Linked DNA regions of Homo sapiens. The protein of the gene in region 3 interacts with the protein of the main gene of each other region in a pairwise test. Each region holds a gene or a part of one and is shown on either strand. Other genes may lie near its edges.

Region 1 (9,803 bases), on a different chromosome or scaffold from region 3:
AACTCTCTCAATACTCTTAGGTGGTACATGTGATCAACTTAGACCAGGATAACATATGCCATCTGACTGGTCAGCAGGACTAAGTCTGATTACCTGAAGTATGAATGATTAGCTCTTGGCACAGTTTGATGGCCATTTGTTCCTGCCTCTTCAGTACACTGGAGATCTGTGACTTGAGAAATTCCTCCTCCATGGACAAGTTGTTGGAGTTGCCCAGTTGCTGGGATAAGTTATCCTGCTGCTGTTGGATGGTTTTCTGAAGTTGACTCAATTTCTCTGAATCTGAGTTAATGTCATTAGATATCTGCAAAACTCCAAGACATGACAGGAGACAAGTTCATATATTCTTCTATTCTTATAACTGTAGATAATTCTCGTGACAGAAACATTTCTTAATTGTTCAAGATTTATTAGTAGCTCTTAGTATTTGAGGTATCATGAAAGAAACAAACCAGATGCCTTTCTATTCCAAATTATTTATAGTTCTTTATAATTTTATTTACATTTTTATTATTGCACTATATTAAAATAATGATTTAATAATGATATATTTCTGACATCACATCTAAGGAAGGGCCAGTCATTCTGCCACTCATTTTCATGAAATTGTTTTATTTTTGTTTTATTTTATTTGGAGATAGATGATGTAATTGTTGTTTTAATGAAAACAGCATTCTTTGGGACAATGGATATCTCAAACTCTGCAGATGACCTGAGATGCTTGTTTACCAAAAGAAAAGAAAAAGCAGATCTTAATGGCATATCAGACCATTTCTCGTCATGGGTCCATGAAATATGCCCTTTTCATAAGCATTTAAGGTGCTTCATCAGCACAACAAATTTAAGAACCACTGCACCAAAAGCACTAAATTTTAGAAAAGAAATGTCACCCTTCTATATCGAACCAATGGACGTACGTTATTGCATTTTCACTTAATTTTTAAATATACATTATTGTAGAAGATCGGCTGCTAATCCTCATACTGATTGGCTCCAGAATATCTGTTACTGCTGCTTGAACATCATATTCCTTTTCAAAAGAGCAAGGTACATCATTAGTCTCTTTTTATGTTGGCAAAGATATGTCCAAATCCTAATTAACCATTAAATCCTAAAAAATTATCCATTAAATCATTAAAAAGAAATGAATGTAGCAGAGGAGATGTTAGTATCATTCAGCAAATTAACTTTCTTGACTGTGAGTTCCCTGTAAGCGAATACCATGCCAATTCACTACTCTGTATACCATATACTTAACAACCCTATAAAGTTTGTATTCTCAGGATGTTTTTCTCATTACTCAAGAACTCCCTACCATGTTCATCCCCAACTTCCCGAGGATGGGTCAGAATCAATAGAATGTTCCTTTGTGGCTGTGGTGCTTGAGAGTGGAGCTTCCATTGTCATGTGGAGATGGTTCAACTCTCTTACTTGGTAAGGTGTATCAGGCCACTCTTCCTCTTTGTTTATATGTCTTTCTCATTCATAGAAATCAGGCTGCTGCTGCTACTTGGAAGATTTCTCTCCACTAGAGAAGTTTCATGTAAGCAGACTGAACCTAGTCTAGTGTTAAGTCTTTCAGGTAAATAAAAATAGCAAGCACTTCCTTCAATACATATTTCTTGACTTTATTTCTCAGCATTGGAATGATAAGTGAATGTGTGTCTAGGCAGAAAAGAGGCTCTTTATTCTAATGAATAACTGGAAACAAAGAGTCTTTGTCTAAGTCCAGTTTAGCTTATCAAGATAAAACAATGAATTTAGAACCAAATCCTGATAATGTCTTTTGCCGGTTTTTTGGGAAGATATGACGAATAGGAGAGATATGAGACAGCAGAAAAGTATCAGACGATTCAGGATGCTAGGACCCATCTACAATCCAAGCTGAAAGTACATGGTTTACAATATGTTTTCTAGTTGCCTTTGTTGGGTTTGATGCTGATATACTTACACATCATCCCCAATGTCACCAGCCCAATCAGCAACATCAGGCAAAGAGTTACCAGACCCAGAGCAGCATGACGCCAAATGGGAGATGGAGCTGGATGCCCTGGAGAAAGCCAAAAGAGCAATCAGCACACAGAACTGCTTTGTGCTTGTTTCACTTTGGTTTGTTTATTTCTCCCACTTAGGGAGCTTCCCGATACTAACGTTTCTTTCTTGCTTCTTTAATGCCCTCATTTAGAAAATACCTAATATGAAGTGCAATGAGGGTGCCATCCTTGTTTCCCCTCCATTTCTCCACCGCTCTCCTTCACTTTAAGAGGAAGCTTCGTTGGGGGAGGGGGGAGGCATACCTTTAGGAGATATACCTAATGCTAAATGACGAGTTAATGGGTGCAGCACACCAGCATGGCACATGTATACATATGTAACTAACCTGCACATTGTGCACATGTACCCTAAAACTTAAAGTATAATAATAATAAAATAAAAAGGAAGCTTCTCCTAATTTCAAGGTTTTTGTTTTACATCATTGCCCACTTTTCTTCCTCAAGTTTATTGAATTCATAAATGAGAGATCTAAAAACTGCTTTTCTGGATGATGCTGACAGTAGGAGACACCTCAAGCTTTTGAGCTCAAAAGTCTCTATAAGGCACATGTTCTATCTGCCTTGTAAAAGTGGATTCGACTTTTTAAAGTATCTTTTACCTGTTAACAATAACTTATCTATTATTCATGCTATTTATCACCTAATAAATAATGAATGAATACTGAATGAAAGAAGGAAAGAATGTGCAGTCTAACCTACAAACAGCAGAATAGACCAGAAAGCCGTTAGCATCCTAGTCATTGTTGTTGTTTAAAATATCAATGGTTGTCATGTTTTCCTTAGCTTCATATCCCTTGATTTAGGTCCAAATAACATCTAGCGCAATGTTTTAGATACAGCATGACAGACTCTAGGTACACTGTGATATGCACCATATCCACACCTCCTTTTTCCTCACAGGTTAGAATTAGAATTAAAAAGTAAAACAAAACAAGGCAAAAATGTGTAACCACATTTATTAGACATATGCAAAGTCTATTCCCATCGGCTTTTTGTAAATATCCTTCCCTCAAATGTCATGCACCACACAAAATGTAAAGATAAATCTAGAGGGCAGGAGAAAGTAGTTCAGATGACTGACATGATTCAGGAGAACCTGGATAGTTAACATATCTGAAAATAAGAGATGTGGTCTTATATATTAAATCAGAGTCTTGACCATGGAGACTGCTATTTTTCCAATTAGGCATAAGAGAATGAGCTGAAGACCAGCACTGAGACTGGGCTTCCCCACATAGCAGTTGTGTGAGCTTGCTTAAATTATCTAATTTCTCTCACCCTCAGTTTTTTCATCTATGTAATGGAGAAAATACTAATATTCGAATATTATTGTGGATTTTCATTACAATTATATCTGTATATAATGTACATAAAATACTACCCAGATACTATTATTACTGGTTCAACATTACAAATTATGCTCGGATTTCAACTACCCTAAAATTTGAAAAAATACTGACAAAAGAAAAATTAGCTCTGATCTATTTCTAATCCACTCACTCATCTTCCAGTTTTCTCTTAAGTAACTTACATCATCTAAAAGAAAAACGTCCTCTACCTTCTCTATTTTAGAAGCCTCCAATCTGGTTTCTGAAAGAATATCCTCCTGGCATCTCTAACAAGGTATAAATATCAAGGATTATATTCATAAGAAGAAATCTCTAATTCCCCAAGCTCAATTTCTGGCATGTGCAGTCAGAATTTCTCTGACTGTGTGATATCACACAACTTTAAAGAGGTTCTGAAAGCCACATATTTTCACTTCAACCTTGGGAACACTCACTTTTCTAATACATTCCACAACTATTTGTCCCCATTTTGGAGATTTCACAGCACATGTCTTTAACGCCAGTATTAAAGCTGGCACCTCAAAGCATTTAACACCTGTCCACTCCCCCAAGGACACAGCTGGTCTTCTCTGAACTCCTACCTCTTTTTCTTAGGTTATTTCCATCTCGGTTATTCCTTGCTCCAGCAGAATCCTGAAATGTGAGTGTCGCGTAGGTCACTTCTTCAGACATTGTAGAAGAAAACGCTACTTTAAATTATCTAATTAATGTTTCAATATCTTGAGGCCTGGGAACAGCATGTGTTTTTCAAGGCTGGGAGCTTTGATGTAGTCACTCAGCTGACCCAGACACACTCTACTGCCCCTCTGTAAGAGAAGAATGACAATTTGTTTCTCTACAGAGAAAGTGAGAAAAGCCAAATATTCTCCTTAGAGATATTCTCATTAGAATGTTACAGATCTCAAACTGTCTGCTCTGTCAGAACTGTTTCTTGCTGTGCAGCAAAGAAGGGGTGCTTGAGGCAGAGCAGGAGGAACATGAGGGAATTCCCATGATCCTCGGGGTAGAGGATGCTCTGAATGTTTCAGAAAAGAGTCAGGTTGTCTTCTTTACATCTATCTAAGGCTAGCTAATCTGCCTGGAGACATTGGTTCTAGTTTATTCTCAGCCACATTAGATATTAAGCAGAGAGACACACATTAAGACAGAAAGAGCTGTGCCACACACCTGGCTGCTATTATAGAAAATTCAAGCGTGTGTGTGTGTGTGTGTGTGTGTGTGTGTGTGTGTGAGAGAGAGACAGAGAGAGACAGAGAGAGAGAGACAGAGAGAGAGAGACATGGTGTTGGTAATGGAGCATGGAGAAGAAACTGATAGCTACTTAGCTACTTAACGTGAGTATGAATGGGAGTGCCCTCTTCTGGCATGGTTGGGAAAGTTCCTAACAGAACAACAACCATGGGATAATCCTGCAGACAGCAAGGAATACACAGGACAAGATTTTAAAAAGATAACTACCGGAAGTTAATACATCTGTGGTAATTTGTTACAGCAGCAATATGTAGTTAATACAGAACCCAGGAAAATATGGGGGGGGAGCGCTATATATGAGGGACGAAATTAAGGAATCTCCTCTAAAGCTTTCCTTTGGGGAGAGGCAGAATATTAGATAACTGTACTTAGGGGAAGGATTGGGTATGAGTTTTGTGGTTTCAGATGAGTGGGGAGTGATCTAAAACTTCCAAGGTTCATATCTGTGTGGAGATTATCTTAGTCAAAGGTGTCCAGCGTGAGGTGCACTCACCCCACAGCTGTGAAGCAGATGCAGAAAGGCAATGTAAAAACTTTCTCTTTAGGAACGCTGTGCATGATCTCTAAACACCTAAATATACATATGTTACTTGTTCATGTTTTTTGTTTTTTTTTTTTTCAAATTGATGAAATAATCAAAAAAATGTTTGGAGGCTCTAAGTCATATATCAATAAAACTCCACTATCAAAAATATTGAAACAAATAATAAATCTATGCTTATGTTTACTATTCTAGTTGAATTCAGAAAAGGCAGAGACCATTGACATGAGGACCAGTTTAAATAGATGATTACAAAAATAAGAAATTAAGAATGGTTTTCTATCTCTGTTCTGGTCCGTGTCCGGAGTTGGTTCCTGCCGGTGGGTTCCTGGTCTCGCTGACTTCAAAAATGAAGCCGCGGACCTTTGCGGTGAGGGTTACACCTCTTAAAGATGGCACGGACCCAAAGACTGAGTGGTAGCAAGGTTTATTGTGAAGAGCAGGATGACAAACCTTCCACAGCATGGAAGGGGTCCCAAGCGGGTTGCTGCTGCTGGCTGGGGTGGCTAGCTTTTATTTCCTTACTGTCCCCTCCATGTTCCGTTTCTGTCGTATCAGACTGACCTTTTTTCAATCCTCACCGCAATTGGCTACTTTTAGAATCCTGCTGATTGGTGCGTTTTACAGAGCGCTGATCGGTGCGTTTTACGTGGCACTGATTGGTGCGTTTTACAATCCTCTTGTAAGACAGGAAAGTTCCCTGAGTCCCCACTCGATTCAGGAAGTCTGGCTGGCCTCACGTCTCATGACTTTCACCAGATTTTGCAAAAACTGGGTTTTCATCCTCATTTCCTTAATTCTTTCACATACCTTAAAGCTTCCTAACAAAGTATTAACTTCTCACTATCCATGAAATGATGCTTAGCTTGAACAATGATGAAGAATGTCACCTGATTCCTAATTATTTCTAAGAGAAGATTGATAACACTTCTCACATACTTTCTATTATTATGATCCAAAAAGCTATATCATCTATCATTATTAGTGTATGATCATATTAATTTAGACATTTCTTTATATACTTTTCTCCCTTAAAAACTTACAGCATTTCTGTAGCTTATTTTATCAGTTACACTATTTAAAAACTCACTTTGTTGCAGTCATTTACCAAATTCTCCTTATTTCTTCATTATTTTTTCAACTATCTTAAATCTTATTGATCTCTACTCCTATCATGATTATCATGTGATTTCGACATTCAGGTAGGTGATAATTCCAATACTATGGGCTCTCAGTTCTTGAATTTGCCTCCAATAACCTTACCCACACTCAGAAATCAGTTGCTCACACACAAAAATCAGTCACCCACTAGATGATCCTAGTTTAGAGCTAGGCTATTCACCGTAGTAATCACTAGGCATATAATTGCTATTTAAACTTAAATTAATTAAAATTAAATTAAATTTAAAATTTATTTCCTAGGTCACACTAGTCATACTTCAGGTACTTAACAGCCACAGGTGGCATTGGCTATGCAATTGGACAGTGCAGGTAAATAACATTTCCATTATTAGCAACGTGGCTATTGAACAGCACTGCACTAGAGTGCAGACAATTTCATTTCCAATATGAGAAATTCTTCCATGATCTGTTTCAGATATTTCACTCTCTGACCTCCACCTCCTATGTTTCCAGCCCACTCTCTCTGGGTATTCTACACTCTACAGCATTTCAGTGCCCACTGAGATAGCAACTTCACTGACCATGCCAACTTCTCATTGTTGTCAATCCCTCATGTCTCATTTCCTATTATACCCAGCATGCACCACTTACCAGGGCCAATTATAAAAATCGTTTTCTTACCCACAGCTACAACTTCCTTGCTTACCTCTTCATTCATCATAAGCATCTAGAAAATGCAGCTTGTTTAAATCCAACCCTACCTACTCTGTGCATACATTCAAGTAGCTGAATGTGATCATATTAACTGGTTTTATCTTACGTTTTTGAAATGTAACTTCTCAGCACTCTTACTAATCAATCTGTTCTGCAAATCTCCTAAAAGATTATTCCCAATCTCTTTTTCTTTCTCAGACTCTCAAATTTCTTTCTGTCTTCTCTTTCTACAAACTAAACGGATAACCTGGCTTTTCCATTAACATTATCTTAAGAAAAAAAAGAAATTCAGAAAGAAGTTTTCTCTGTTTCACTAGTCAAATATACCAAAACAGCTACATCAGTATATGAGGTAGTATTCTTTTCAACAGTGGTTGAATTGTACTACTCATCTAAGATCAATCTCCATCTGTATATTAAAATCCATCCACCTATCTCCTTAAAGATTTCAAGCTTGTAATTTTCCTTCTTTTTCTCTTTCTATCAATTTTTCCATTTTTTTCATCTCTACTTGTTCACTTATGTTCACTTCCAAAGATGATATAATATCTCCTATATTAAAACAAGCAGAAGCCATCTTTTGTTCACCGTAACACCATACACATGATCACTCCATTTCTCTAATTTTCTTAACAACAAATGGGTTCAAAAATTTCTCTATGATCTTCCCAAACCTATTCTAATTAGGCTTTTTCCTTCACTATTTCTTTTTTTTCTTTTTTTATTTTTATTCTTTCTTTTTTTTTATTGAGACAGAGTCTAGCTCTGTTGCCCAGGCTGGAGTGCAGTGGCGCGATCTCGGCTCACTGCAAGCTCCGCCTCCCAGGTTCATGCCATTCCCCTGCCTCAGCCTCCAGAGTAACTGGGACTACAGGCGCCTGCCACCCCGCCCGGCTAATTTTTTGTATTTTTAGTAGAGACGGGGTTTCACCGTGTTAGCCAGGATGGTCTCGATCTCCTGACCTCGTGATCTGTCCCCCTCGGCCTCCCAAAGTGCTGAGATTACAGGCGTGAGCCACCACGCCTGGCCCTTCTTTCACTATTTCTAAAAAACACTCCTGCTAAAGTCAACATTACCTCAGTATAAACACATCCAATGGCTAGTTCTCAGGATTCATCTTACACATCGTATAAACAGAATTTTAAATAACTGATTATTCACTTTTCGTGACAAACTTTCTTCTCCAAAATGCTTTGTTCCCTAGGACACCATTCTCTTGGTTTTCCTTTTGCTTCACTCACAACCCAATCCTCCCTCAGATTAACTGATTCCTCTTTAAATTAATTTAAGATGTTGTTGTGTCCTAGAGTTCAATTCTTGGTCTTCTTAAAAAAAAAACAAAAAACTTATCCTGGAATGAACTAAATTGAATAGTACCCAGAGAATGGCCAGAATGGGAATTAATTTCTTATAGATTCGTGCCTTGAGATAACAGCCATACATTGATAATGTCCAAAAATTGTTATCTCCATACCAGCGCTTGATCTACAGGACCACGTATCTGAATGGATTCTTGGCATATTCACTTTGATATATTATAGGATTTTCTAGCTTAACACATCAAAAAATGGGTACCTTTTCCCAATGTGTTTCTTCATCTTAACAAATGTACACTCCATACGTACAGTTTCTCAGCTAAAAACTTGGAATCACCTTTGACAATTCTTGCTGCTCTCACATGAATTAAACTTGTCAGAAAATATTGTTCACCTTGGAAAATATGGAAACACAGTTATTAAATGTGGAAGTATTATTGATTTAGAAGATCTTAAAAGAAATATTGAGTTAACATGACAGAAGGATTCATTCTCACTCTGTTCTTTCTGTTCTCACATTTCATGCCTATTTCAGAGGACACTTTTAAAGTGGGGTTTAAATGGGAAAGTACCCAGAGAATGGCAAGAATGACAATTAATTCCGAATTATTTACAAAAAAGAAATAGGGAAAAGTGAAGATGAAAGCCAGAGGTATCAAAGACTTAAAGGAAACAAAAATAAACTAAAAGCAGAAGGAAAATAAATGGCCACAAGAAGGAGACAGAGGATGAATATAGGATGGAATTTATTTTGAAATGTATTAATATATTTACCCCATCAGGTGAATATACCTGACCAGCATAATAAAATATCCCAATTAAAATGAAGCACTATGAAGACAGACAAATTGATTCAAATCCTGGAGCAACACTTACTTGCCTTGTGGCTTTCGGCAAGTTATTGAACCTCTGTGCTTTATTTTTCTTAATAGTAAATCTGTCATAAATTTAATTCCTGCCACAAATATAACTGATAAAAGCATATAGAAAGAGCAATAAATGGCAGCTGTCATCGTAGAAGCAAGTTTGGATTATTCTGGATCATATTAAAAATGGAAGAAACCTGGGCAATTGTCCAAGCACTGACAGTGAAGCTTAAACAAACCAATCCTCATGAGCACAACGAGGGTCTGCTTGAGCCTGTCCAGAAGAACTCGATTATATCACTTTTCTTCATTCATAACACTTTCCATGATATACAATTATCTTGATCTTTGCTTTCTATGTTTCTTTACTATCTGTGCTGACCACCTTCTACTATAATATAAGCTAAATGCTTGTATAATTCATTAACCATTGGTCCCCAGAAAATAGAATTGTGCCTTGGACATCTGCAGTGATCAGTAAACATATGTTCAAATAAATGATTAATTAATAGTCCCTGCCATGAAGTTTTATAGTAATTTTAATTGGAAAGTACAATAGTAGATATACTTAACATTCTGTGAATCCTTA
Region 2 (9,260 bases), on a different chromosome or scaffold from region 3:
AAAACATAATACAGATGCTCCTTGACTTATGATGGGGTTATACCCTGATAAATCATCATAAGCTGAAAATATCATAAGTCAAAAAGGCATTTAATACAACTAACCTATCCTTACATAAGTTGAAATACATTAATACACCTAACCTAACCTAATCTGCCCAGCATCACAAAAGTACTCCATACCAGTAGCCCAGAATAGGTCAAAATTCAAAATTTAAAGTACGGTTTCTACTGAACGCATATTCATTTTGCACCATCGTAAAGTCAATTTTAAGTTGAATGATTGTAGGTCAGGGACCATCGGTATAGCTACTTTTATATATCTATCTTTTGTATCTACTAAATTATATCTTACATTTTATTCACAATTTAAAAGTTGGTGAGTAAACATTTTATATTCATTTCACTTCAAAAACCTTAAACCTAACAATACATTTGTCTTTTAAGTAATCTGTGCTTACGTTTTTTTCCTAGACATCAGTGGCCCTTTTTGGATAAAATGATTCCATCCCCTATGCATGTCCTTTTTAGTATCAATGCAACTATCTAAGAAATGAAAAGATGACCTACCAGTATGAAAGGACAAGGTACACTATAAATTCAATCTCCATAGACTTCATTTCGGAAATTTTGATCTCAATAAGCTAAGTTAAGAAAGACATCATGGCTGGGCGCAGTGGCTCACGCCTGTAATCCCAGCACTTTGGGAGGCCGAGGCTGGCGGATCACGAGGTCAGGAGATCGAGACCATCCTGGCTAACACAGTGAAACCCCGTCTCTACTAAAAACACAAAAAATTAGCCGGGCGTGGTGGTGGGCACCTGTAGTCCCAGCTACTCGGCAGGGCAAGGCAGGAGAATAGCATGAACCCGGAAGGCAGAGGTTGCAGTGAGCCAAGATCGCGCCACTGCACTCCAGCCTGGGCAACAGAGCGAGACTCCGTCTCAAAAACAAACAAACAAACAAACAAACAAAAGACATAATAAATGAAGGAATATCAGGCCACAAGTCTGATTTAGTTAAAATCAGCTTTGTCACTTCTGTGTGACTGTGAACCTTAGTCTCCTCAAGTACAAAATGGGAGCAGTAACACCTATGCACTCTACTACAGAGGTGCTGAAGAGCAAACGAGGTAACAGATAAGTAAAAGTTCTTTAAGAACTGCAAATATAAATGCTTCCATTAACAGTACAATTACAAGATTGGTAAATGCTTGTAATTATTTAAATTGTTCTGTAGTACAGTTCAGTGTCAGTGGCATCCTAAATCAACTATAGGGATTGCTTTTCCCAATATCCTACCAGAAAAAACTTACAGTTGGCTGGCATTCAAAGAATAATCTTCAAATGTGGCGGCCGGTATACTAATGAAAGACTTCAAGAGTAGAATATACTCCACTTATAAAACGACACCAAATAAATATTATTAAATAGCTACATGCTATATGCAATGTTAAAATTCCCCATAATATAAGAGTCAAGAAAATAACAATGTTCCAAAATCCACTGGGCTACATTCTTATATGAAATATACATCTCCTCTACCTTCCTTTATGCCATAGCTGATAAAGACCAACAATCCACAGTTAGAATTCTAAGCTGGAAGAGCAACCTGTGAAATGTGTGATTGTGATTACAGAAATGAATAGGACTATCGTGAATAAAAAATAAACATTTTAAAATATACTTACTTGAAGGGTATGGGTACGGCTGTGGTCTGCGCCTTTTTGAAGGACAAAGGCAATCTGCCACAAATATCATACACTGTAAAAATAAACATTGTAAGAAATCTGAATGTAGAATATATGCCACAGCTAATGTAACTATTTTAAATAATCACATTTTTAAATATCTTTCTTCCTAGCACTCCAAAAATGAAATACTTACGAGTCCTAATAACAGTCCGGAAAACAGAGTTGCTAAAGCAAAAACAGTATATGATCCCCACACTGGCAATCCAAGGTCTTCAATAAAGTAGTTATGGCAAGTCTAAAATCAAAAGAAAAAAAAAAACTAAAAATCTGTTCATTTTTGTTAAAGTGATAGTGGTAAAAATGTTTAAGATAAAAATATTTTAGTCCATACCCTGATCCACATAGATAGCTGAAAGAGTGCTGACATACTACTCATCCTAAAAATAAAAGAGATGATTAAAAAACTGAGTAACATACACAGATTTGTCTATACATACTATTTTCTACTCTATAATTTCCCCAATATGACAGATTTTATTGCTGTTAATCAAGACTAGTGACACATCACTGATTTCATGCCTGTAATAAGCCTTCTTCATGAAAACTGTTTCTAAATTGACACTACCATGTGACAGCCTCATAAATAAAAATACTTGACAGTATTTTTTTCCTTTTCTCCCACTGTTTTGATGTTAATATTTTGTATTTCATCTGATGATTTCTCCAATACACTGAGTAAAGGGTTACAAGTTCCATGAAACCAGTTGGAAAAGGCAACTCTTACTCACCCTTAAAAGCCTTCAAAGCAAGACCAAAGGGAGGCTAAAGTAAGGACTGGAAACAATTGTCAAGCCAATTCTTTCCATTTAAGAACTATCCCTCTTTTTTATTGAAATTAATTAAAATTTACAAGAGCATTAGTTTGACATCTTTTAATGATATACAAAATTATTACATAGGAAATAAATGCTAAGTCATCATATAAGCAAAAATTAGTATTTTACATAATTAAATGGCCAGTTTTAAAAAGGCATGTTTCAGAAATAAGAAAGGTCTGTGAGTTCCCAATTGTAGCTGCTTGAAAATAGACTTACAAGCAACTACTTTCTTCTACTGGAAGGACAAGATTCATTTATGAGATGAGATTTCAGAGAACAAAAATCAGTTATACTTTTAGTTCGACACAGAAAGGTATTTTAATCATGTTGCTTCTGTTGTTTAAAAGCCAAGTGAGAAGAGAAACAAGGAACTGAAACATAAAGCACTGTATAGCCTCACTGTAGTCTGCAGTAATTTATTTCAGAAACAGTAGGATCCAAAATTGAGTTGGGCATGGTAGTTCAATGGGTGAGTGTTAACAGGGCTAATCTTTCTCCCATCCCCAGAATCTAGAGCATTTTTCTCTTATGTGATTACTGTCCCAACTCCCTATCCTCCAAAGGTAAGTGTGGTGAGAGGACAGGAAGAGACAGATGGCCACACAGGATCAGTCCATGGTGACCTCAGCAAAACTCACTGTTCCCAGAGGTCTCTCACATGACCAGTGAGGCCTTGTACTCCAACAGCAAAGCAGAAAGCATGCTTGCTACTTCCAATCCTTATCACTCCATAGCCAGTTGCTACGAGGAAATTCATCTACCCTCTAGATATCTATAAAGCTCAGTGCTTAGGCACACTATTACGGTCACCGTTTATACACACTATTCATATAAGAAGTTATCAGACAGGTGGAATAACCAACCAAACATAATTCAGTCGCTTGACATCAAGAGTTGAAGTTTATGTAATTAATTTAGTTGGTATCGGCAATTATTGACGGTCTCTATGGAGACAGAACATTAAAAGACAAATTGAAGTCTGGAGGTAGCATGAGTACAAGTTTGAGCCTACTCATTCAAATTATTACACTCGAGTGATAGCTTTACCCATTACACTGTGAAGACTCTTAGGGGCATTTAGTTTTTGATGATACATATGACCAAATCTAGCAAGCTAAAATATTCCTGAAAAGGTGTACAACTTACTTCTATAAAATGCCTTCTCTAACTCAAGAAGCATGAAAATATGTTTGACTTAGAAGGTCAAACTAAAAAGATCAAACATGTAGGCCGTGCATAGTGGCTCACACCTGTAATCCCAGCACTCTGGGAGGCCGAGGTGGGCAAATCACGAGGTCAGGAGATCAAGACCATCCTGGCTAACACAGTGAAACCCCGTCTCTACTAAAAATACAAAAAAATTAGCCACGTGTGGCGGTGGGCACCTGTAGTCCCAGCTACTCGGGAGGCTGAGGCAGGAGAATGGCGTGAACCCAGGAGGCAGAGCTTGCAGTGAGCCGAGATTGCGCCACTGCACTCCAGCCTGGGCGACAGAGCAAGACTCCATCTCAAAAAAAAAAAAAAAAAAAAAATCAAACATGTAATAAATGTGGATATACCTTAACAGCTCAAGAAACAAACTGAGTATGAATGCTTTACATAAAATATAATTATCTGTTCCAATTAATTATGAAATGGGTAAGAGAAAAAGCCCTCATACTTACAGAACAGAACCTGGACCAAACCATGATGAAACGGGCTCAATACTCTTCCACTCTTTATCACTTATAAAGTTTATGAAGTCCTTCTTAGTCCTTGGACCCTGATAGCGCCTAAATTCACCATCTTTACAACTAAAGAGAATCAGAATTAAATATTATCCAGCACTGAGAAATAATTTAATATTTATTTTGCTATTTTTTCACTTCACTTTACAGTCAATTCTAACATTCAAAAGCATTAGCAATGTACAAGTATTAATAGCAAATTATACTATTTACCTACTCATGACATTTTAGCCCCCAATTTAACAATGAGGTTACATTTTTTTAAATCATAAGCCTTAAAATGTAATTACTGTTATTCTTCCAAGTAATGAAACTATGAAATACAGTAAGTAGATAAATCTCAGGAAAGTACTTTTAAGCCTTATGTGTAATACACATATTAAAAGAATTATATAAAAATTATTAGAATAGTGCTTGGCACATAGTAATTATTAGCTGTTAAGCTATAACTTAAAATTTTAAGGCATTTTTCTAGTACTTTTGGCTATAATAGCATCACCTCAGACACCCTGCTTTAAATCACTGGAGGCATCTGGTATGGTGCTTCCCTTCCTCTCATTTCAGTGACTATTTAGTGAGCTTTGCAGCCTTCCTTAGATCCACCTCCTCCTTCCCATTCCCAATGTAGAAAGTTCTGTCAGAGTCACAAATGTTCTCTTGGCTCCAACATCTTTAAGTGCAAAAACTCATCAGCTCCCTACTAGGGACCTGTTAAGTAGGGTTAAGGGACCCTTTATCCACTCAGAGGTAAAAACCACGAGGAAGCCCCCCACCCCAAAACACAAAGTTTTTGTGAAGTGTCATTTGAGCTATTATTTGAAGCATAGGTAAGATTTCGACAGGCAGGAAACAGGAGAAAGGATATGGTAAACAATTTTGACTAAAAGAAAAAGGGCAGGAAATTCCAAATAAGGTCACAGGGCACTAAGAAGTGAAAAGCAAAGGGAGAGACTGAAGGGGCACGTGGGGAAAAGGACTGAATGAGAAGGGCAGGACAGAAGCACTTATGGAGACAGCGAACAGAAATTTATATAGATGTAAAGGGAGTAGGGGTGAATTTTAAAACCATAAAAAAAAGAAAAAAGGGCAAAGAAAAGCAAGCTATAAATACAAAGAATTGTCAACTTATTTTCAGTACCTCCTGGTATTTAACCTACCAGCTACATGATGTTGGGGTACACAGACTTGAGATTTCATACCCTCAATTTAGAAGATAAAGTCAAACTAATAGACCTGACACTGAAGACTACATAATCTTGCTCATTCTGTTTTATTACCCAACTGTCACCTATTACTCTACCCAAGGCTGTACAACAGCACTTTCTTAGCTACTTTTTGGACATAACATGTTCCTGTTAATGACTGTTTATGAGATTGTCCTCACAATAAAATGCTTACGCTCCACTCTTAAAATTCTACTTCCAAGGTTTCATTTAAACCCCATATTCTCTGGGAACCAATCCAGGTAACTGTGATTTCTCCTTTATCCAATTACCTACAGGACTCACCACTACTTTGGATGCATAATGACTTAACACGCTGAACAGGATCACACCATTTCACAAGAACATCACTTTCCAAAACAACTGTAAATCTTTGAGAACAGAGACTGTTTCACACATCACTCAACTACCTAAAGGCACCTAGGATAACACTAAGCAAAACAAGCCCTCTAAAATACCTGCTGAATATAATGAGATTACCTCAGCTCTTCCAGCATGATCCAAGCCAGAGGCCTACTACTTCTGATTACACTATAATGCATCCTTCTCCATAATTTAGAATCTTCAAATACTTACTGATAAATAGTAGGAAGAGCAGTTATGATAAACCGTCCACTCAGTCCTACAAATAAAGAACACACAGCAGGTTTTACATAGGCCAATCACTGACTACTTAAAACGTGACTTTGAATTATTTAAATACATACTAATAGGAAAGAATATGAAATTATACCTAATAGTTGAGCTTCGTAATACATAATTTAAAAATGAATTATGTACTTAAAGCAACTTTAAAAAACACAATACTGCACATTATCTCAGTTAAAAAGTATGTAGAACTAGAGTACTGAATACATTTTTAAATAAAAACACTTCAACATTTATATCACTGTCAAAATTAAGACTACTAGTAATAAGAGCACCTTGTGCTCATGGGAGAGCACAAGGTAATAGGGTCTTAGATCTAAAATCCAATGGAATTGTACTTGACATTCAACAAACAAAGGCAGTTTATGGTGCTGCTAAAAATGGAAAATACTATGAATCTTTCATGAGACAGGCAAAAATAATAGCAGCTAACATTTATTGTTAGCCATGTGTCAAGCACTGATATTACAGAGAATTGACCTGTGCCTCAGTTTTCTTATCTGTGAAATGGGGACATTACATATTTCACGGGGTTGTATAAGGATTAAATAATAAACACAAGATATTTGGAAGAGTGCTATAATAGGCAAGCGCTCGATAAATATTACCTATTATTACCATTTGGGATGGGACAGCCAAGAATCCAAGGGTAGTGTGACTACCGAGAACGGTAAGATGAGATTGGTCTGTGGAAGGAACCTCCTTAAGGGCAGGACCTGCCACTTGTCCAGGGACCAAGTCAGGAGTGCACTTGACCTCACAACCACGAGGGCTTTATATTTAGAAGCCCACATCCTCAAATCATAGGTACTAAATTTAAAACTCAATTTCAGAGATTCAGGTCTTCTTTTGTCAGGGAACGTGACCTTGACTCCAGAAAAACACTCAACCACATGCTCCTTATTCTGAAGCCTGGTATGGATGCAAATGTGGCTTGGCCAATGTTCACCTGAACCACAGTGTCCTAGGACTTCTCAAAGGCATCTTACATACTAGTCTGGGGCCTGGGATGCAAAGAACAACAAATCAGAGGCAGTTATGTGGGCAAGAATAAAAAGAGGGTAATGTCTTCAAGAACCCTTAAAGCAACACATTCAAGAAATGAGGTGTATACACAACCAGGGAATCTCCATTTTGCAACCATTGCACACTGAGCCCCCAGCAGGGAGGTGGACAAGTCAGGTTAACTAGCTGCAGACTGTTAGGTTTTCAAAACCTAAAGAAAGGTAGAATTAAGACTATGCAATGTAGAAAAAAGGATAAATATATCAACCCAAACAGCAAAGAAACAAAACTAACCAAAGACTTACAGTACCTGGCTGCTCTGTGACATCTACTTTCGCAATATTAACCTCAAGATCTTCTCCCCATTCAGCAAAACTTTCCCATTCCGGTTGAAGATTTTGACAAGCAGGGCACCACGGGGCATAACTAAGAAATACAGATTTTTTTTTAAAAAAAGTTAAGCACTTTAGTATGACCATTTATCTTGGGATAAAAAATTTAAATGTATAATTTATGAAGAATATTTCATATGAAAACACTGAAGATGATAAGGTGGTTAATTTTATGCAGATGAAAAACTTTTAAGGGTAGATCTAACAATCCGGAAATCAAGAATGATGAACTGATGATGCTAATCAAATAAAATTCTGAGAATAAGACACAGGATTTTTTCACATGCAAAACAGCTCTTTAGAAAACTTTTGCATTTCTCTATTAACGGTGTGGCCACCAGAAAGCTCAAGACCAAAGTTAGAGCTTACCAATTTTAATAATTTATAATGCAGAGTCACAAATGCAAGGTGTTGGAAAAACAGAAGTGTCCTGGGCTGTGGTGAATAAGAAAGCACATATTCCATCTTAAAGTGGCAACCATTATTAAGTAGGATTGCCACTAAGGATGCTGGCACACTAAGGCTGGCTATTCATATTTAAAAGAAGATGGAGAGCTGCATTTTTATATGAGAATGTTACCTCAAAAAATAACCCACACACAAATACTAAGCAGGCCAAACAAAACTCTTGGCCAGTTAGGTCATCCTGTTTCCAAGACCTTGGATTTACAAATGCAAGCATATTAGCATTTAAATTACTCCTCTGGTATTATCTCCTGAGGATCTTATTTTTCCACTTTATTGTATTTTATCTTATAATACACCACAGGGTTGTTCTTTTTTTTTTTTTTTTTTTAACAGAACCAGGAAGAATAAAGCCTAAAGCAGTTAAACACAAAACTATACTTTCTGTACTTCACATTTTCTTCACTTGTTTTATGAAAACCAAACTCCTAAAATAGACATTGTAGAACAAGACAAACTGGTAGTATAAAAGCCAAGCTCCTAACAATAAATCGTATTACAATGAAAATATCTCCATGACAAAACTTCTGAGCAGAAATGGATTTACTGTAGATAATTCACTTGTAATTAGGAGCAGACTATTACTAAAACTACTAGAGTCCTTCTTTTTCAGGTTCGTTTTGTTGCTCAGTTGCTTTTTTATTTTTTGAAACAGGGTCTCGCTTTGTTACCCAGGCTGGAGGGCAGTGGCGCCATCTGGGCTCACTGCAACCTCAACCTCCCGGGCTCAAGACATCCTCCCACCTCAGCCCAAGTAGCTGGGACTACAGATGCCTGCCCACACGCCCAGCTAATTTTTCGTATTTTTTTGTAGAGACTGGTTTTTGCCATGTTGCCCAGGCTGTCAGTTGCTTTCTAAAAACTTACTTTAGAATCTCTACTTAAGGAAAAAGAAAAACTACTACTCTATAGCATAATTTCAGATAGATGCTCCAATGTGGATTTACCTCATACTCAATGTTTTGTTAGTCTTGTTCTCCTTAATACTACTTCTGATTGCTGTATTTATATAGTTGGACCATAATGAGTTAAAAAATATCCTTGAGTAATACTTGACTGTATTTTGCATATACACACACGATCACTATTGCTTAATATATTGCTTATAACACTATTTTACAGGCACGATCTAAAACAAGTTACTCATGATGATGACTGAAAAAGTGTCACAGTTCCTCTCCCCTGAAGCTTTCAATGGTGCCTGAATGAAAATTCATTTCAGAATTGCAG
Region 3 (5,048 bases):
TTCTCTCCTTCAGGATGGCATTAGGAGCTTAGTTGGTGCCAACCAATGTTTTATCTGCAAGTGTGGCCTCAAGTCACCATCATTCAGACCTTTCACCATATCATACCTCAGGGTGAGGGATCTGAGATGCTTCTGCCAACATTCCCAGTATATCAGGGCAGCTCATGACATGCCTCCATGTTTTCCATGTGGGTCATCAAACAACAGAGCACCAGAGAGGGTTGAACTAAATGAATACTCAAGTGCCTTCCAGTCCATTTACAGCCTCCATTTCAGCTGCAATTCCCAACTGTCTCCAATTAGCAAACCTTTGCACAGACATCATGAAGGCATCATGTGCTCCCTGTAGCTTGTAAAACAGCTATGATTTTGGTGCCTTAGCACCATCTTGTAACCCAAATCTCCAGCTCAACTTTGCTTTCCACTGAAGCTCTTCATCCTGCTCCAACAGGCACCTTGTACCCACACCCAAGTTCCCACAAAAACTCAAGAGAGACCAGTGAGTTACTCTGATGTTTATTTTAATGCATCTTAGTCCACACAGTTGGTATAAAATCAGAAAATGCAAAGCAAAAACAAAAGGTCTGGAGTCTTAGCATCAGAAGGGCACCATATATACATCTACAGTTGGTGGCCAATACAAGTCATTGCCAGACAGTCCTTGGAGGCACAGAACAGCCTAGACCCAGCCAAGCTCTAGGAACTCACGGTCCCAAGGAGTCTAGACGCTTGTTCTGATGCTCCGACCGTAAGAAAAATGTGGGAGTGATGAAGGCTTTATGATTTACTCATTATAGTAATAATAGCAGCCTAGCTAGGTACAAAAGCAGTTATAAACCATTTATATTACACAGAATTATTCAGGTCTCCATTCTATCTTATGTTGTAAAATTGTTAATTGGATTTCCAGTGAGTTGTTTAGATGATTAGTGATAATAAGGAATGGTAAATCCATAGCACCATTTCAAAGACTTGTTGTCACTGATTTCTCATTTAGATGTGTGACGAAGATACTCCACCTGTAAGGGCAAGTATGCCAATGCCACAAGCCGTGTTTTTGCAAGGGCTCCAGTTTGGGCATTTTGTCCGTGTGCGCGTAAAGCTTCACACAGAGGTTCGGGCAGCGGCTGTTTCTGTTGGATGCACTGGGTCACCCACCAGAAAAGGGCTTTTGGACATTTGGGGTTTCTACCCACACTTTGGTTTTCTAAATGAGGTGGACTGGGAGGGAGGTATCTTCTTTCAGATGAAAGGGAAGGGGCGAGATGGAGTTATCTTATTTCTGGGTAAAACAAAACAAACAAACAAAAAACAAAACAAAAATACTGAGCTGGATTATACTGTTAGGATGTAAAGTTCCTTAGCTACTTCTTTAAGGCTCAACACGAGGCTGATGGTCAACATAAAAAGCAAACAATACTATGTACATATATGTAAAAAGTGTTATAAATAGGTTTTATAAACCGGAGATATTATATACATCTTCAATCAACAGCAACCCCCACCTCCACTGCTTTCTGTTTGGTTTGGTTTGAGTTTGGGATTTTGGGCTAGCTCTTTTTTCTTTGTCTGCTTTCTGTTTTCCCTTCCTCCCTTCCCTATGTACGCTCAGAGCCTCAGACAGACCGTCTGGGCGCCTCATTCGCGTTTCCGCAAGATCACATAGATGACACCGCTGAGAAGGGCCAGGGGGAAGGCCACCCAGGCCAGGATGTAGGCGAAACCGTAGGAGTAATCCGAGTTGAGATGCCACTCCGGGTGCCTCACCGTGTAGATGGCCGCAGCACTCATCACGCACAGACCTGGGGAAGGAGAGGGACAAGCTGGGTGACGGAGAGTCCATGGCAGAGCGGCCCCCTCTCCGCCACCCCGGATGCTGACAATTGCTGGGTAGGAAGAACATTTCTACCTCTGGAAGGAAATCTGCTTCCAGGTCCAGAATTGAAAGGAGGTAGCACAAAAATATGGGAACAAGGAAAACAACTTGCTCTCTATTTCCAATCTTGGCCACCTAGGCCTTAATACCTGAGGGTTTTCTTTACATTTTCTGCCCTATTTCTCTTTCTTTCACTGTCACCAATTCCCAGGCCACACTACATGGCCAGCAGGCATTCAGGCTGCAAGAAAAACCTACCTGTCTCTTTCCAAGGGTGGTTGGGTATGGAAACCCCTGGAAATCTATATGCCACTCTACAAGTGAGTGGTGGCATTACCTAAAGCCAATGGAAGTGAAGTGACATTTTACCATTATTGGAGTCACGCCATGGTAAAAGGATTAAGCTCCATGCAGACCACAGGGGCCTATGGTCCCCCTAACAGAGTTGCCACATACCAGGTGAAGCAAGCAATGCCTATGGGCACTGCCAAACAGACAAAGAAATGTGTGGAGAGGGAAAAAGAAAGTGAGGAATAAGGATGCAGCCGACAGTATGACTGGGAAGCCACGCTGCAGAGGGGGAAGATGATCAAAGGCAAGCTCCATTTCCCTGGGTGCCCCAAGGTTGCATTTGAAGCCCAAAGAAGGCTAAAGGGCACTGGATATGCAGGTGGGTCAGGCCACCCTCCCTGGCCCACCAATGCAGCCCTTCGGTGTTGGAAAGAGAAGAAAAGCCTCCATCTTGGGCCCTGTGGAGCAGCCACGCTCAAACTGATGGCCCCAGCTCACGTGACAGACAGCGTCCCCCCACAAGGAGGGGTCCAGTGATGTCAGCACCCCAGCCTGGAGCTGCACAAAGCCTGGTCTGTTTCCTCCCTGAAAACAGGGTCTTTGAGAAGCTCTGAGTGACTCTATTATAAATCCAGTATGCCGTGTGGGATTCATGCAGTTCCAGAGTTCCCAATGCACCCGCGCCCCCCCACCGCCCGGCCACCTACATCTAACCTCACTGCTATTTGGGCTGCTGTTTTACTGGACACTGCAACTTTGTTTGAAGACAGTGCAGAAGTGGGAATACGCCACATGAACCACCCTGTTAAGCCTGTCCTCCTGCAACTCAGAGGAGAAAACTGCCACTTGACTGGCCCCTGTCAAGAGAGCCACACAATAGTCTTGGAACCAAAATGGGACAGCATCCAGGACCTGCCACCTACAGGAAGTTCAGAAGACAGCAAAGATGGCCATGTCAGGAGCGAAATCATTGCGGGTTAATTGTTGATTGCAGAAAACAGCAGTTTTGATCTGCTGGGGACACACTTTATTTGCCTTGAGGTCCAGGATCCTTAATTATCTTGCCCCACTCTTCCACGGCTTGCATCTCCAAAGTGCTAACTCTTGTCTTTAAGAAATACTGAAGTTGTCTCTTGGGCTCTGTCTGACTTATCTAATGAAGGCAGGGCTATAAAAAAGGAAACATGACCTTGGCAGAGAGAAAGGTGTTAACAGAGTGCTAGCAGGGCAGGACAACACTTATCATCATGCAGGCAGGGCTCCCAAATGGGCTGTCTAACCAGATCTGGCATGAGAAATGCCTCAGGAGCTGAGTGGACCAGCTACTCCCCGATTTCACTGACTAAGAGGAGATACCAGATTCCATCCTTGAACAAGAGGGATAGAAAGAGGCAGTATAGAGAAGTGCAGCGACTAACTACACAGCTTAATGTGTATGACTTTCATCTTAGTAGAATCTCAGAAGTGAATGACTCTAAGCTTAACCGTGATAAGCAGTAAACTTAGATATCTACAAAGCCAAAGAGAGGATACACACTTTATATGATTGTTGTCATGAGACTGATGTTTTAGGGAATATATTATTACAAGATTGTCTGCATGTAAAGCAATAGATGTACCCTGAAATAGAGAAAAGGATGATTCTTTGGCTGGGTTCCCTCTGTCTGCAACCCAAGACAGTTAATGTCATCCAGTAGTCATCTCCAAAAGCCAAATACCCCTAGTAAGTGGACTGTGACTCACTTTCTCAGCAACCAGTAGGTGGAGATGTATCACCAGGTCCCTGTGGCAAGGGTAAGTGAGGCCCTGAGGCACAGGCAGATGTTCTGCTCTTTGGCAATGACCGGGACTCCCTGGTAGGGGCCTGAGTCTGGGAGCATAGGTCATCTTTAAGCAGAAGGACACTGACCCTGTCCAGACAATACAAATGTGCTGAGCATTCAACTTACAAGAGTTTCTCCCTGTCTCAGGATGGGTAGGTCTGCAACAACTTCCTGCAAGTTCTGCCTAAAGCCCTTTTGAAGAGAAAGTCTTAAGCTCCTTTAACAGTGACTGCAACCCCATGAGAGTGATTAGAGCCCAGAGCCTCTGGAAGGAAGCACCCAAGGGGCCAAGGTCAAAGGAAGTAGCTGAGGGAATTCCCAGTACATCCTTATCATCTCCATTCCCTTTGGTTCAGTGAACATTTAATGAGTGCCTATTGCATGCGGGCCCTGTTCTAGCTGCTGCTCTAGATGTACCAAGATAAGTGAGACATGGCTCCTACCTTAAGGACTGTGTGTCTAGAAGACAGACATTTGCATATAATTTCAATATAGTTCGATGGAATTTCGAGAGAGGGAAGGAAATGCACCAGATGCCCCAAGAGCATAGACGGGCGCTGAGTCCAAACTGGAGAACTGGAGAAGCCACACGGACTCTCATATAATAGGCTGATTAGCTCACTAAGGGTCAGGAAAGAGAGGGCCTTACATGACATGTTAAGGAAGCTGTGATGAGAAGCCTCTGAGGAAACTTCAGCAGAGGAGAAACATGATCAGACGCACGTTTTAGAATGATCACTCTGGCCATGGTGCAGAAAATGGATTCAGGGGCAGGGACAAGGCAGGTAGCTGGAAGGTGCATGAGGAGGCCTTTGCATAGCTGCACTGGGGTTAGTGAGTCAAGACAAAGAAATGGGCGTAATGCCTACGGAGGATGCTACCCAAATGCAGGATTCAGTAGAAGGCTGGCTGTGGGGTGAGGGAGAGAGGAGAGGCCAGCATGACCGCCTGGTGTGTTCACTCAGGCAAGTGGGAACACAGCGATGTCTCAGAAGCCAGGGGAATAGAGCTTCAAAGAGTAAGTAGCTAACAGTATTGAAAGGAGCAGAGTGATCCAA

The links. The genes of interacting proteins can lie anywhere in the genome.
Region 1: the proteins of PMP22 (region 3) and CLEC12B interact in binary tests that used the Homo sapiens proteins (3 or more experiments, as listed by UniProt).
Region 2: the proteins of PMP22 (region 3) and TMX1 interact in binary tests that used the Homo sapiens proteins (3 or more experiments, as listed by UniProt).

Annotation. Positions count from the first base shown.
Region 1 is NC_000012.12:10,005,032-10,014,834, reverse strand, and holds the start of CLEC12B (C-type lectin domain family 12 member B), read right to left. Parts: upstream 4,209-9,803; 5' UTR 4,076-4,208; coding exon 3,985-4,075; intron 2,051-3,984; coding exon 1,952-2,050; intron 1,031-1,951; exon of another isoform or gene 313-1,030; coding exon 94-312; intron 1-93. UniProt on the Homo sapiens protein: Inhibitory receptor postulated to negatively regulate immune and non-immune functions. Upon phosphorylation, recruits SH2 domain-containing PTPN6 and PTPN11 phosphatases to its ITIM motif and antagonizes activation signals.
Region 2 is NC_000014.9:51,242,195-51,251,454, reverse strand, and holds part of TMX1 (thioredoxin-related transmembrane protein 1 precursor), read right to left. Parts: intron 7,600-9,260; coding exon 7,484-7,599; intron 7,366-7,483; exon of another isoform or gene 7,231-7,365; intron 6,143-7,230; coding exon 6,097-6,142; intron 4,364-6,096; coding exon 4,235-4,363; intron 2,130-4,234; coding exon 2,084-2,129; intron 1,988-2,083; coding exon 1,886-1,987; intron 1,763-1,885; coding exon 1,690-1,762; intron 1-1,689. UniProt on the Homo sapiens protein: Thiredoxin domain-containing protein that participates in various redox reactions through the reversible oxidation of its active center dithiol to a disulfide and catalyze dithiol-disulfide exchange reactions.
Region 3 is NC_000017.11:15,229,279-15,234,326, forward strand, and holds the end of PMP22 (peripheral myelin protein 22), read right to left. Parts: intron 3,336-5,048; coding exon of another isoform or gene 3,265-3,335; exon of another isoform or gene 1,803-3,264; coding exon 1,639-1,802; 3' UTR 501-1,638; downstream 1-500. UniProt on the Homo sapiens protein: Might be involved in growth regulation, and in myelinization in the peripheral nervous system.